2 separate regions of the Homo sapiens genome follow, and region 1 is linked to region 2. The links come from fine-mapping of genetic effects on gene expression. Tissue or cell type: testis. Region 2 holds a variant in brackets; the other region holds the start of a gene. All regions are shown on one strand. Distances are between the middles of the regions.

Region 1 (8,476 bases), 74 kb after region 2:
AAGTGTGCTTCGTTCTAGGGATGTGAGGCTGGTTCAATGTTTGAAAATCAATTTTACCATATTAATGGACTAAAGATCAAATTTAGGAGTATCATACCAATTGATGCAGAAAGAGCATTTGACAAAATTCAATATTATTCATGATTTTAAAGAACGCAGAAAACTAAAAATAAAGGGAATGTTCTCAGCTTGATAATTTGCATTTACATAAAGCCTATGGTATTATAATTAGTGATGAAAGACTGAATTTATCTTCCAAAATATTTATGTAAATATTTAGTAATAAGAAGGGATGAAAATAAAGAACAATAAAAACAATAAAATAAACTTGAAATGAGGAATTACTAAAAAAAAAGGTAAAATATGACTGACCTTATTAGTTCCATTAAGAGAAATTACAGCAATCTAGAAAAAGATAAAATTGTATTCCTACATTATTTTGTTCATCCAAATTACTTCCAGGTGCATAAAGTATTTAAAGATAATCACGAAAATTATGCAAGTACCAAAATTAACATGGGGATTAAAACATTATTTTGTATGGCCATGACAAAAACTCAGAACTCATTTTTTAGAAAAGAAACCCATGGTCTTTTTGACTTAAAGAAAATCAAAAATTTATTCAAGGTATAAAACACACAGAAAAGCAATGTATAAATAAGCTGGATGAAGAAAGACCAACAAAGCGCACTAATTTTCTTTTATTTCTTTTACTTTTCTTTTTTTTTAAGCTACACCTGCTGGAATGGGAGATTAAGTTTTAAGATCTGTGGGGGGTTTTTTTTGTTGTTTTTATTTTTTTGAAACAGGGTGTCATTCTATTACCCAGGCTGGAATGAAGTGATGCTATCATATCTCACTGCAGTCTCTCACTCCTGGGTCCAAGCGATCCTCTCACCTCAGTCTCCTGAGTAGCTGGGACTATGTGCACGTACCACCATGCCCAGCTAATTTTTTTATTTCTCATGAAGACAAAGTCTCACTATATTTCCCAGGCTGATCTCAAGTCCTGGGCTCAAGCAATCTTCCTACTTCGGCCTTACGAAGTGCTGAGATTACAAGTGTGAGCCACTGTATCTGGGCTAATTTTCTTAATAAGCAAAGAGATTTCTTTCATATATCAATAAGAAAAGGCTGTACAACACCCGGTGGATCTTATAAAAGATGATAAGCATCATTTATAGTGTGACAAATCCAAATTTAAGTTGCACTTTGTACCATCTTCACCTATCAGATAATCATGGCATGCCATATTGGCTAAAGATTGAAAAATGGGCACATTGATAATCCTTAGTAAATTGGAAAATCTCTTTGTAGGGAAATTTGATAGTGTTCATTACTACTTAAAAAGCACATATTTTATTTGAAGAATTTACTCTATAGGTACTATATTGTGATATTATACTATATTATCATATCATAAGAATGAAGACTTACATAATGATGTTCATTACAGCATTGTTTGTAGTAGCAAATTATTTTAAACAATCTGGAGTGCCAAAATAAATTTTGCAAAGCACAATAAATTCCTATGTAGCTGTTAAAAAAGAATGAGGCATATATGTACTAATGTAGTAATTTGGAAAAATTATTTAAATACTTTGTGTACTAATTTATGTACTATACTAATTTTATATACATGTACTAATTTAGTACATTGTTAATCTATATTTACTAATTTGGAAAAATCTTGGGAAATTTTATGTAAAAGAAAGCAACATTTACAATATTATTTATTATATATAATGTATTATATAATATATTATATATCATATATTATATATTTTATATATATATATAGACACACTCACACATACACACATATTAACCTTTGGGTAGAAAAGCATTAAGGGATACAGGAGATAGACATATTATGCTTTACTAGCCATAGGCTATTTCTGGATATATCCAGCCATTTATCCACTTAATTCAAAAAATATTTATTGAATGACAATGCCTGTTTTAAGCATATAAAGTGTATGGTTAAAATACAGACTATACAAGTGCTCATGCAACTTGCTTTCTAGTGAGAGAGATAATAATAAATATAAATAATAAGGGAATTAATAAATTTATATATGTTATTTATACCCCTCTAACATATATATATTCTTATCCTTACAGGCTGCTTAAGTCTGAGCGAGACTTGAGACTCTGAGCTTCAATGTTCTTAAGAGTAACGTGTGTGTGTGTGTGTGTGTGTGTGTGTGTGTGTGTACTCTAGAGGGAGTAAAATCTGTGGTAAGAGAAAAAAGAGCATGAAATAAGGCTGGAGAGCGCAGGGTGTGTTGAAAATTTAGAGTACTCAAGGTAAGTCTTATTGAAAGAAGTGAAGCCTGTGATACAGAAAATAGCTGGTAATTATGACGTTTTTGATGATGTTTTTAAGAAAAGAACTGAGAATACTGGAACACAGGAATGGAATATTTTCATAATATATTTTTGTATATTGTTTGAAATAATTAACATGTGATTACATAAAGTTTAAAAAGGCCATAAAGTCATTTACACAATTCTGTGTCAATATTGTCATAAGACCTAGACCTGTAGAAGTAAATATTTCTGAGTTTTTCTTACTTTTTCAATTATGCTTTTTTTCCCCAATTATGTTTTAAATCTTATCTTGGCTTAGTAGAAGTCCTGTATTTTCACAGATTCATTGATTTCATCAATCCATTTCAACATATAGGCTGGTAGATGAATGGGTCTCCTGGCTGATGAGGACAGGGTTGTTTTAGGAGCGTAGAAGGAAAACAGGCAAAAGTTTATTTTAATAACACCTGATATTGATTCTGCTTAATTTGCCCTATATGCAAAAGGTAAAATGGATTTAATTAAAGGTAGTCTATTGCACGTATAATGATGATTCAACCATTAATTGTACAACTATAACTGTTATTTAAGTAACAAAATCAAAAAATTTTTTTCATTTGGTACTGGAATTCAGTGCAGCTAGTTGCTCAAATAAAAGCAATAAAGAAAGTATCATGCAGATTGAATTCATGTACCTGTTCTGCTATGTATTAACCAATGCCTTTGGGCAAGTTAAAAAAAAAAAGTCTCTCTAACTCTTTTTTTCCTACTTGCTGGAATATAAAAATTTCTCTAATGTTTATTCTGCTAGCTGGAATTTTAAAAATTACTCTAGTTTGCTTCTGCTAGTTGGAATAGAAATAATTTGATTGGAAGTCAGATAGTCTAGATTTGACTCTTAGTTCTTATCCTTATAGGCTGTTTAAGTTTGAGCAAGACTTTAGACTCAGAGCTTCAATTTTCTCAAGAGTAAAATAAGAATACTGCTACCCACATCACAGGAGTATTTTTTAGTATTAAATGAGATAATCCATGTGGAAAATATTATTATGTAAAAATACTATAAACTTCAGGTCATAAATGGCAGGCTGTTGGCCAAATGTAGCCACAAATATGTTTGAATTGGCTGTCATAGTTTTGGCTTTTAGCAGCGCTGTAAAACAATTTTAATTAGTGGTCAACTTTCAAAGATTTGTTAATTTCACATAAAATATGAACTTTTGAGTTTTCCTTAAAAAGTCATATTAGCTGGCAGTATTGGGTTTGCGTTCTTCATAGCAAAAGCAACAAAATGCAAGTCTGATTCTCACCTTGGAGGGGCTTTGCACTCCCATCGGTTGCACTTCTCATCATTCAATTATCTTTTCCGTGACACTGAAGAAAGAGAGGCTCCGTTTTCCTTGTCTGGTTAGTTTCGTTCACTTGTGTCCTTTTTTTTTTTTTTTTTTTTTTTTTTGAGACGGAGTCTCTCTCTGTCGACAGGCTGGAGTGCAGTGGTACCATCATGGCTCACTGCAACCTCCGCCTCCCGGGTTCAAGTGATTCTCCTGCCTCAGCTTCCGGATTCTCCTGCCTCAGCCTCTGGATTCTCCTGCCTCAGCCTCTGGAATAGCTGGTACTACAGGCGCCCGCCACCATGCCCAACTAATTTTTGTATTTTTAGTAGAGATGGGGTTTCACCATGTTGGCCAGGATGGTCTTGATCTCTTGACCTTGTGATCCACCTGTCCTGGCCTCCCAAAGTGCTGGGATTACAGGCATGAGCCACCACCCCCAGGCCACTTGTGTCTTAATTCCTCTTGATAGTGCATTTTAGTTTGTGTCACCCACCTCTGTAAGTTGAAATACTTTTACCATTTCAGTAACTTGAAAACAAACTGCTCATTTTTCTTCTTTATCAGTTATGAAACTAAATATATAAAATCTTATCCCTAGTCATCCAGGATTGACTGCTCCTTCTTCACAAGGGTCTCTGCAGGTCCCAGTATACCAAACACACAGTATTAATCAATATTCATGGAGTGAATGAAAAAAATGAATGAATGAAAGTGATATATTTGCTACCTTACAGATAACATGTGAGTAGTTCTTTGTTTTAATTTTAACATTTATTAAGCTTTTGCTATCTAGATACAGTTACTGTATCTGAAGTAGAGAAAAATGTTGTTTTTCCGGCTGAGCACCATGGCTTACGCCTGTAATCCCAGCACTTTGGGAGGTCAAGGTGGGTGGATCACCTGAGGTCAGGAGTTTGAGACCAGCCTGACCAACAAGGTGAAACACTGTCTCTACTAAGAATACAAAAATTAGCCAGGTGTGGTGGCATGCACCTGTAGTACCAGCTACTCAGGAGGCTGAGGCAGGAGAATTGCTTGAACCTGGGAGGCAGAGGTTGCAGTGAGCCAAGATCATACCACTGCATTCCAGCCTAGGTGACAGAGCAAGACTCCTTTAAAAAAAAAAAGAGAAAGAGAGAAAGAACGGAAGGAAGGAAGGAAGAAAGAAAGGAAGAGAAAAGTGTTGTGTTATTTTATTTTTACAAAATTTTATTACAGGTTGTCCCCAGATAAGACATGGCCTCAATTATCAGCTAAAATGTACTTGTAAAAATGGTGGCCTTTGCAATTCTGCAGATAGAAGGTCTATCTGTGGCCTTGGGTGGACAGGAAATTATTGTGAAAAAAGCAAGTTGATTCACTGCCTTTTTTCCCTCAATAAAGATCTACTTTAGGCCGGACGCAGTGGCTCACACCTGTAATCCCAGCACTTTGGAAGATTGAGGTGGGCAGATCATGAGGTCAAGAGATCGAGACCAACCTGGCCAATATGGTGAAACCTCGTCTCTACTAAAAATACAAAAATTAGCTGGGCATGGTGGCGGGCGCCTGTAGTCCCAGCTATTCTGGAGGCTGAGGCAGGAGAATTGCTTGAACCCTGGAGGCGGAGGTTGCCGTGAGCTAACATTGCGCCCCTACACTCCAGCCTGCCAACAGAGCAAGACTCCGTCTCAAAAATAAAAAAAGGATCTACTTTTGAGAATACTGTCATTGGTTGATAAAATACAGCAGAAACTTGTGAAGAAGCTATTTTCCAGTAAGCTAATTCAAGTTGTTTAGAACTATAATTGAATATCCAATAAAATTGTTATGTAAATATGATTGATATTGTTACTGAAATATCACATGAAAACTCCTAAACTCCTTAAGTAATTGAAATAGTATTAATGTGAAAGAGCTCCTCTGAGACCTAAACTTAACTCCCCTACCAGCCACTTTTTAAGCCTAAAGAAAGGCTTTGTGGACACCAAATCTACTAAGTCTTGAGTTTCTAGGCATGAAGCTGAAGAATCTCCACCACCTCTGAGGCTTTCAGGCAGGCAAGGCGGAGGATACAGGGCTCTGGGAGAAGCCAGATCACATGAATAAGAATAGGCACAGCTGCAAAGAGGGAAGAGGACCACCCAAAAGTCTCCAAAATTTGTTTCATCAGGAAAAATTTAATCAGTACAGTAGTCCCCCTTTGCCTGTGGTTTACCTGCGGTACAGTACAGTAAGATTTTTGTAAGATTGGCAGAACTCTAAGTACATTGATGTAATTTTTTTATTAGTTACTGTGAATGCCTTATTATGCCTAACTTATGAATTAAACTTTATTATTGTTATGCATGTATAGTGGAAAACGTAGTGTATATAGGGTTCAATGCTATCTGAGCTTTCAGACATCCACTGGGAGTCTTGGAATGTATTCTCCATGGATGGGGGGCCTGCTATACCACTATACATGCATTTTTATTTATAAATGACATTCTTGCACGTCTTGACTAATAAGTATATTATAAAATGTAGATAAATGCTTAAATTGATAAACATGGATAAAATGAATATTGATAGTTGTTCTAATGTTTGTTTTCCTGAACCACAATTTGTTATTTTGTACAACACTGGAAAGCACCAACTTTATTTAGAGCGCACTATTGTAGGAGACATTGTATTTTGGCAGATTACAGAGCAAAGGTTCTGGCAAAGTGTGGATGAGAACATTGTGCTGGAGGCCTAAACTTGAGGCACTCAGAGCAGAAAAAAATTCACAATGTACGTTTACCCAGATGGTTTCAACTGCGGGTGGTGTGACTCTTCCGACTTAGTGAAAATGAGTGTGATTATCTACTCTCCGTCACTACTCGTTCAACTGTCATGAAATTCAACAACATGTTATAGAAGAAACCACATTGCAATGGGCATGGATAAACATGAATGCTAACCCTAGCTCTGCTAATACCATGTGGTCTATCTTTGGGCAGTTCACATCCTCTTTCTGATTTAATTTTCCCATCTGAAAATGAGGGTATTGAGCTGAATAATACCTGACAGTCCTTCCAAATCTAAGATTCAAGGCCATTTTTCATGGGATTTTGAAAAGATGGATATCCTGCCTAATTCATGGGAGATGGCTCTTATCAGTTTTGTGATTTGAGATTACAAAATCAGCTTTTTAAAAACAGACAGTACTATCATGTCCATGCTCTTTTTGATTGTAAGTTGAGTAATTTTCTGGCATTTAGTATGTGGGATATTTTTACCATTGATTCTATCATTTAAAGTTTTTATTATGTAACATTTCAAACACATACAAGAGTTAAGAGAATGATATAACGGTATAATGAATCTCCATATATCTGTCATTCACCTTCAACAATAATCAATCAATTTATGATTAATCTTGTGTCATCTATACTTCCAGCCACTCCCTCACTCTGTACCTCTATGGTATTATTTAGAAGCAGATCATGGTCATATTAATATTCTTTTCTAAGCTTTTGGTATTATAAATTTTGTATCAATAAATAGTTTTGTGCATATATTGTTTAATATTTTTGCCAAACCTCCAAGAGGTTTTAAGTCTTCCATATTGGACTTACATATTCTGTATTGTACTTGATTGGCCACCTAAGGAAATGTTTCAAAGGTTAAATTTTACAGACTTCAAAACCTAACTTCCTTGTAAGATATTTACCTACTGTATGTGCATCATATTCTTTTAATCTCTTTCTTCCTTCTTCTCTTCCTTCTTCCTTTCTCTCACACCCATCTCTGTCATTTACTCCCAGGACTTCAAATATCAAAAATTATATGATATCACCTTCCACAGATACTGTCTTATTTATTTAAATAATTTAATTTAAAAATCATTCTCACTAAATTTAGCCTGGATTTGAACACATTGCTTCTTTATGTCTTTAAGGTATTGAAGGATTTTTTTTCTTTATTTTTTTCTGTTTTTTCTTTGTTTTTTTTGTTTCATTTTTTTATTTTTTGAGATGGAGTCTCACTCTGTCACATGTCACCCAGGCTGGGGTGCAGTGGCACAATCTTGGCTCACTGCAACCTCTGCCTCTCGGGTTCAAGCGATTCTCCTGTCTCAGCCTCCTGAGTAGGTGGGATTACAGACATGCATCACCACGCCCAGCTAATTTTTGTATTTTTAGTAGAGATGGGGTTTCACCATGTTGGTCAGGCTAGTCTCAAACTCCTGACCTCGTGATCCACCTTCCCTGGCCTCCCAAAGTCCTGGGATTACAGGCGTGAGCCACTGCGCCCAGCCGGTATTGAAGGATTTTAGGAAAGGCTTTGGCCAAATGTTTATGTGCACATCATAGGACATAAGCATGATCTACTTAAAGCTATTTCAATTTCCTCATTCACTTTTCTAGACTAATTATAGAAACTGGCACCTATATATTCACTTATTTGTATGATCAAACTATTGTCAATGTGCTTCTCCATACAATTTTTTCTTTCTTTCCAATTCGCTCATCTCTTTATTTGGTATTGGGAAACAAATGAATTGAACATATTCTAATTTTCCTTTCATTTACTTTTAATGTAAATAAAATTCTAATTTGCCTTTTATTTATTTTTAAAGTAATAGTATTTTGACATTTCCATTTCCCAGTGTACCCTCCGGGATTTTATGGCTTGAATTGTGCTCACATCTGTGACTGCAAAAAATGGAGCTAGTTGTAATGCAGCAAGTGAACAGTGCATTTGCCCAGCAGGTGTCCATGGCAGCCAATGTGAAAAAAGTATTGCCAGAGCATTTTTAAGGACACAAGTGCGAGAATTCTGTGTGACTATGAGATCTTCTCATCTGGTGACAAACATGT
Region 2 (8,476 bases):
GGAATACTTTTGGAAGTGTTATAAATCCTTGGAGGCTACTAGGATATTTCTTTCTTTGCAGCTCTGTCACACACACACACACACACACACACACACACTTTTCCAACTTGGTTAGGCAACAGTAGAAATCTTGGACCATTTTGAGACTTCTTACAAGTCTACGTTTCTTTCTCTCTCTCTCTTTTTATTTTATGTCTGCCCAGATGGCCTCTGGGGACCAGAGGGCTGGTTCTCCTCTGCACCCTGTGAAAATGGAGGTCAGTGCAACAAAAAAACTGGAAATTGTGACTGCACTCCTGATTACACAAGAAAATCCTGTACCATATGTAAGTCATAAACCTAGACGAAATAACCAACAAAGTTAATAAAACTGTTAACTTTAAAAATGCTTTTTTTTCCTGCTATACAAGATATTGCTATGTTAGGATGCATGTTCCCACCATTTATTGTTGTGTAACAAACTACCCCAATACTTTGTGGCTTAAAACAATGATTTAATATTTCCCTTAATTCTATGGTTTGATGAGGCGATTATACTGCTGGTGTCCCCTGGGGTCACTCATGTGACTGCTTGGGCTGGTAGATATTTGAGAACAGACTGGGCATGGCTGGGCTGCTCAACCAGGGAACTTGCCCTTTCCTTTACAAAACATTTCCACAAGGTTAACTTGGACTTTCCTATAGCGTGACAGTTTTAAGACAATAAAGAAGGAGCATTCCAAAAGTGTGCAAGCAAAAGCTATGTGAGGTGGAAAAGCCTTGCCTCAGAAGCCACACATTGTCACTTTCACCACATTCTATTGGTTAAAGCAAGTCATGGGCAAGCCAAGTTCAGGGGAAGGAGAAAGAGATTCTACCTTCTGAAGAGAAGAGTAGCAGAAGCTTATTGCAAAAGACCTTCAAGTTGAGAGATATGGTTGCAGCCATTTTTGGAAGCAATCTACCATAGTATGCTATTCAAATTTATACTGAAAGGCACTTTAAGAACCTATTAGACTAGAATTATCATTCTTGTCAGATGGGAGCAGATTAGAGAGTGATAGAAAGTGATTAGCTACATCGAACTAGTTTCAAGGAGCCAGTAGAACTACTATCCCGCTGTACCCTTTTCTGGTTGTGATTATTTGTAAGTTGTGCTAACCCTGCCTGTATCACCTTCTCTACTCCATTGACAATGAAACACAGTGACTTGAGAATGTGAGGAAAACTATGGGCTGGATAGTAATTATACTTTTTTTTTTACATTACTATTTATTTGTCTAATAAAGATTAGCAAACATTTGTGATTATCATTTTATGAAGTGTGAACAGTGATTTGAATTAGCTTTCAGTGCTTAGGCCTTTCCATTAACCAACAAATATATAAAATCAGAAACACCATATATAAAATGTAAGCAGATAGTATTTAGCACTGAGCTAATCATATGATCACTTTGGGAAATATTGCTGCCCCTAGGGAGAACCCTCAGGCAAAAGTTACAGGACTAGATCTTTGATGACTTTCTGTATATAGCAAGATACTTTATTTTAGAACCATTATTCTGGCACTTTTGACAAGCATTTCAAACAGTAGAATAGTTTACTGGAGAAGCAGTTGGCTATCCCTAACCTACTTGTTTGCTTCAAAAAAAAAAAAATACCTCTTAAAGGTAAGAATTTACATATTCAAAAGGTAGTTACTTGCTATTTCCACAGTGAAGTGACATTTTCTCTTGTCTAACTCAACTTTAATGGAATAATTATTAAGCAGATAGTGATAAAGTTTACACTGTTCCAGTTGTCAAGTGATATAAATAGACCATTTAAGAACAAGTGAAGAAAAAGATAAACTCCTCATTCTTTAAGATATTAATTTTCATAGTTATGTTACAGTTCTTTCCTTTTATGACTTCAAATCCCAGAAAAACATTTCATGATAGTCCTGAGAGATTTGTTAGTGATAAGTAATACTATTTACATTTTATTGGCAACTTGATAATGATACATGTATTGAATTCAATATGCAAAAATATTCCCTGACTCCTAGTCCAGTCCAATTTTAGTATTACATGCTATTATCTGATTTTACACACACAGACACAAACACAAATTATATAATCACCATAATAAGATATTTAGGAAAATGAATGGAGCCAAATGATAGAATTCATTAAAAATGCTTCACGCGTACCTCACAAAAAATGTGTGTGGCATTTTAAAAGTGGCATGTATTTGAAGAAAAGCATACAACATTTCTCTAAATATCCCGTTATGGTGCTCACAGAATTTTAAAACCTAGTTACTCTGCATAATGAACTGTAAAAATACTCATAGGCTATATAAGTAATATATTTTAGAGGCAGGAAAGACCAAAAAGCTACGTTTAAATATATTGGCTTTTTAATAAATCCTGTTGTTTGGAAGTTATAAATACAAATACTTGGGGAAAATCTTTTTAAATCTTTTATTTCACTGTATTTAAAAAATCCTCTGGATTATGGTAGATTGGACTTTGTTGCTGTTTTTTGTTTTTGCTTCCTAAACAGTATGTGTATGGTGTGGCATGGCCATGGGGGTGGAATCACAGGCACTCTCACACCCTTGATAAGAATGCATCATCTATGTGAAGGGCAGTTAAATCTTACATGTCAGGCCTTTTAGCAAATAATCAGAGAAGGGCTCCCAGCCTTTTCTTTATCCCAGCATTATTTATAACAACAAAAAAAGCTTAAAGTAGAAACAACCTAAATACCCACTAGAAGGAGAATGATTGAGCAAATTATACAGCATATCACTGGACTCTTCTGAGGCCATTAAGTTTCATGTTTTAGAAGAATATGTCATGTCAGAAAAATTGACATTGAGTTGATGTTAAAAGCTATATGTACAGAATGATTCAAATTTGTAAGAACATGTAGCTATGTATGTATATGGGAAATTGTAGAAGAAAGGACAGCAGTTTTTAAACAGTGTCCATCTCTAGATGGTGGGACTATGGGTGAATATTTTTCTCCTTTATACATTTCTGTCTTTTTCATATTTACTAGTTTACTACTTTTTCCTTAGGAATCAGAGAAAAAAATGGCATCATCTTTAGACCAATTGGTGACTAAATATCCAAGAAAAATAGTTATCTATTCTTAAAGTATTCTCTGTTGGCCTAAACTGTTCCCATAATAGTGAAGATATTTTTTTCCTTCAGTCATATTTAACTTATTGCTATTTTAATTTTAGACCATTTTCTCCTTTTTCTCCTATTGTGAATATTAACCATAGCTCATCAGCACTACCAAAACTCTTGAAAAATAAACACCTAAAAGAACATAGTAACGTTTCCTCCTAATATTTTATTTCCCTTTCGTCAGAAACCTCATTTTCTATTCCTTAGTCATTTAGTGATTACTTTTATTTTTCAGGAGCACTTACAAAACAGGCCCCTTCACTATTAAAGGAGAGAAAATCAGAAAGGAGAAAAGACATGGGAAGGGAGATACTAATTCCAAATACATCCATGCTTCAAATATTATTTGATCAAACTTCATAAAAACCATAATGAACACAGGTGTAAGCCTTCCTCAGTGCTAAGCTGGCAAATGTTTAACAGGCTCTGTGAAAGATAAAAGCACTGAGTTTTAGTGTTTGCCGATTTCCAAGGTATAATACTCCTACCGTGGTGATTTCAAGCAATCAATGTGATTTCAAATGGCTTGCAAAATTCCTGAAAATGTAGCAGTTGGCTTTCCCGAGCCGGTAGTTATGGCTCCAGCATACCATTGGCTGGCAAATATTTGTATTCTGAACACACCAAACAATTTCTTAACTTTTACTTTCTCTATTGATATGAAGAAATTATTACTTTTCAGGTATCAGTTTTATTTTACTGTTTCTAAACAGATAACCCGATTGACCTTTTTGGTTGAATTAACCAATAAATAGTTCCAACCAACAAAAATTTGCTATTTAGATAGGCTATTTTATTTTCAAGACAAAAATCAATTGTTTGGCTAAATGGATTCAAGATTCAAAAAACAGACAAAAGAAGGTATTGAGTTGCTTTATGTGTAAACACAGTCTCCTCAGTCTTTTACTCTAGAATTCATATAGCTGGGGTTTTGACTCAATCTAGAGAATCCTTTAACAACCTCTAAGCTGTTTTCCAACTTCCTCTACCACACCCAGCACGAATGAGGGCTGGTATTTCCTTAGTGACACACTTTTGTTAAAAAAAAAAAAAAAAAAAGAAGAAGAAGAAGAAGAAAAAGAAAAGACAGTTACCAGTTATCCAAGGTAGAAGTAAAAGAGTATGTGTAAAGCAAGGCAAAACAGCAAACAAGTTTTAAAAATTAGAAAAACAATTAAAATCTGAAATATTACCAAACATAAAGAGCTAAGGTACAACAAGATACTTCCTCCTCTCTGAAACAATTGTAAATCAGATTTTTAAAGTTGCTGTAAAATAAATTGTATTTAAATAATACATCTCCTATCCTTTCCCACAGTGAGATGCATTTCCCTTACCAATCTGGCTCTCAGCAGGCGGTCCAGCC[C/T]GATGAAGTATCAGCAAAATGTCAGCTCCCACAGAGAAGTGCGACAGAGGCAACAGTGCAGCAGTGACAGGCCTTTCAAAAAGCTATTGTGCAAATTCAGTTTTAAAATAGGGATGTAGTTGAGGACTGATGGGTATTTCATTACCAATGCGTTCATCTCCCCCATCGTCCAAGAGAATGAGAGGGGGTCATGGTGCAGCTGATATAAAGCCATTAAGTTGAGTAGCGGTTGATTTGGTCTGTAGAAGATTTGTCTTCCTATCTGTATTTTTGAAAAGTTAATATTCAAATTAGCTGTCATTTTTAGTACATACCTGCTAAAGGGGGGCCAAGAATTGTTCTGTTTTCTACTTGATCACCTTCCAGTGTCTCAATTAGATCATTAAAAACAAAGTTAATCATGTCATTACTTTATAAACCTCATTGAGCTACTGATACTGTTCATAATGAAGTTCGTAGCACTAAAGACCCATCATCAACCTGTCTCTAGCCAGCTTTTGACCATGCTTACGTATACCCTACATATTTTAGTCATTCCCCCAACATCATGTACATTTAAAACATGGTGCCATTGTTCATTGCTCTTTCCTGTAATACATGTTTTCTTCTTCCATTTTTATTCCCTCAAGCATTTATTCCTCAAGCATTTTTATTTTCCAGTATATGTAAACAAAATACTAGAGCCCTTCTTTCCATAGCAGCACCAATCATATTGTATTATAATTAGTTGCCTGCTATTAAGACTGCTTATCATTAATTTTTGTACACCCCACTTTTCAATATACAAGGGGTACTCAATAAAGATTTGCTAGATTCAATTAAAGAACATTTTTGACAACTTAAAATTCCATCGAAATAATTTACTGAGTAAAAAAAAAAAAAACTTGCAAAACACAGCGTTTATGATACTGAAAAATACCCAGTAACCAATACTCGTTAAACTGGATTGAATTACTCAGCCTTTTAATATAGCAAGAGGAAATCAAGAAAGCTGTAGCACCACAGCTTTATTGGTCTGTACTCCATTTCTGAAAACACTTTTCATGAGAAGATTTTTCAATGGATTAGAAGACTAACATCAGACAATGATGATTCCTTAGCTTCATCTCAAGAGTCCAGATTATTTCCTTCTATACTCACTTTCAATGTATGCAATCATTCCTTTTAAATACAACAGAGTTACCTTAGAAAAGTAAACAAATGTAGGCTGGACGCCGTGGCTCACACCTGTAATCCCAGCACTTTGGGAAGCCGAGGCGGGAGGATCACTTGAGGTCGGGAGTTCAAGACCAGCCTGGCCAACCCCATCTCTACTGAAAATACAAAAATTAGCCTGGAGTGGTGGCACACGCCTGTAATCCCAGCTACTCAGGAGGCTGAGGCAGGAGAATCACTTGAACCCGGGAGGCAGAGGTTGCAGTGAGCTGAGATTGCGCCATTGCACTCCAGCCTGGGCGACAAAAAAAAAAAAAAAGAAAAAGAAAAGTGAACAAATATCTCTGGCTTTTAGTGTCTGTATATAAAAGGAAAGAGTTCGACTATATAATTATATAATATATAATTCAATGTATAGAGAATAACATTATGTAGTAAATATAGACATGCTGTATAGTGATGTATTACTCAAAGCTCATGTTGAGTATCTACTCTGTATTACACACTGTGTTTTGTGTTTTCCATCAGTATGCTCACTTAAACCTTAGAACAACTATCTGAATTTGGTACTATTATCATCCCCATTTCATGAACGAGGAGGCTGTATATAGGAAGAATTAAGTAATTTGTCTGAAGTAATTAATAATTGAGGACTAGATAATCAGTAAAGTACATACCAATATTATATATCTATCAAATGAGACAGTGCTTTCTAATATTAATTTTGTAGCTGCCTGCTTATAAAATTGAGAGAAAATAAAGGAATTTAAGATTCCATAGAAAAAAACCTAAGCAGTCAAGAAATTTCCTTAAGGTTGTTTTATTTTTGGCCCCACCTTTGCAGATTGCAAAAATCGTTGCTAACATAGCCGAAAACATTGTTGAAATGTCAAATGCTATTAATAGCCCATACTCAATTTAATGGTGGAGGGATGTTGTTTTTGTTTTGTTTGGTTTGTTTGTTTGTTTGGTCCTTATATAGCACATCCAACCTATTTCTACAGCCTAAGTTGCCTGGTACACCGCGTTTCCTGGTGGGACCTTGATATCAGCCAATGTCCCTACCTGTTCAACTGGACCAAGCCTGATGACAGATGCTGTATATCAGAAGTTAATTATAGGGCCAGGTGCGGTGGCTCACGCCTGTAATCTCAGCACTTTGGGAGGCCGAGGTGGGTGAATTACCTGAGGTCAGGAGTTTGAGACCACCCTGGCCAACATGGTGAAACCCTGTCTCTGCTGAAAATATCAAAAATTAGGCAGGTGTTGTGGCAGGCGCCTGTAATCCCAGATACTCCAGAGGCTGAGGCACAAGAATTGCTTGAACCCAGGAGGCAGAGGTTGCAGTGAGCCGAGATCATGCCACTGCACTCCAGCCTGGACAACAGAGCGAGACTCCATCTCAAAAAACAAAAACAAAAACAGAAGTTGATTATATATCCAGTTCTTCACCTAACCTAATGACCTAACAAATTTTCTCTACCTTCTGCAGATGCTGAGTTGTCTCAGTCTTTTTTCGTTTTTAGAGGGCTACCCAATCTTGACTGTGTTTAAAAGCCTCTTTGTGTGTTGGGGTAAATATAGCTGGCTAGCTGCCTACAGTAATCTGTGATTACTCTTCCTGCTTGCTTCCAGAGTCCTGAATTGAATATCTGGCAAAGCGCAAAATAAATTCTTATTTCTACAAGGCAAGTCATCCAGAAGTTGCCCTCCAATACACATACCTTTCATATAGACATAGACACAGACCCTTTGTTTGTGAGTTGGACTCACAGTCCACTGTGTTCTGCAATTTTTTATCTACTTATGATTCAATTGTATCTACTTATGATTTATATTTACTTGTTTGGCATCTATTCATTCTAGTACCATAATTTCTTAATATTCAAATATAAGGACCAGTCTGACATATAGAACTCTTTTCTCTCTAAGTGTTTCTTTTTTTAATGCCACTGTGTATAAATATCATTGTGTCTTTCGCAAGCAAACACCCTAAAAATGTCCATATGGTGTCAATATTCCTGAGAAGTTTTCAGAGTACATTGAAGGCGAGAAAGGTCTCAGGTCATAATAACCATTAAGTTTTAATTTTGTTACTATCTCTTGAGTCTTTTATGTACCTATTATTTGTTAAGTATATATGGGGGAGGGGTCCTCAACCCCTGGGCCACAGATTGGTACTTGTCTGTGGCCTGTTAGAAACAGGCCTACACAGCAGGAGGTGAATGTTGGGCAAGTGAGTGGAGCTTCGTCTGTATTTACAGCTACTCCCCATTGCTTACATTGCTGCCTGAGTGCCACCTCCTGTCAGATCAATAGTGGCATTAGATCCTCAAAGGAGCATGAATCCTATTGCAGAACTGCGCATGTGAGGGATCTAGGTTACATGCTCCTTATGAGAATCTAATGCCCAATGATCTATCACTGTCTCCCATCACTCCCAGATGGGACCATCTAGTTGCAGGAAACAAGCTCAGGGCTCCCACTAATTCTACATTATGGTGAGTTGCATAATTATTTCATTATATATTACAATGTAATAATAATAGAAATAAAGTGCACAATAAATGTAATGTACTTATATCTTCCCAAAACCATCCACCCCACCCTGGCCCAGACCATGGAAAAATTATCTTCCATAAAACTGGTCCCTGGTACCAAAAAGGTTGGGGACCACCACTATATGAAATACTAAAAAAGTTAAGACAACATCTTGCCCTCAAGGAATTCGTGCACAATTTAATGAAAGAAGTTGTGTAAATCACTTATTTTAATTATATTTTAAAAGATATTGA

The links. PIP is the estimated chance that this variant, and not a neighbour inherited with it, causes the effect.
Region 1: LINC02082 starts here. The variant in region 2 is fine-mapped to the expression of LINC02082 in testis (GTEx, PIP above 0.99).

Annotation. Positions count from the first base shown.
Region 1 is chr3:168,898,135-168,906,610 of GRCh38, forward strand. It overlaps LINC02082 (long intergenic non-protein coding RNA 2082), which reads left to right and starts at 3,811. Exons shown (of 5, transcript NR_109989.1): 1 at 3,811-3,845; 2 at 5,232-5,406.
Region 2 is chr3:168,824,600-168,833,075 of GRCh38, forward strand. It overlaps the pseudogene EGFEM1P. Among named protein-coding and RNA genes, the nearest start is that of LINC02082, 73 kb to the right of the region's middle. The variant C/T (reference allele first, on the strand shown) is at 4,527.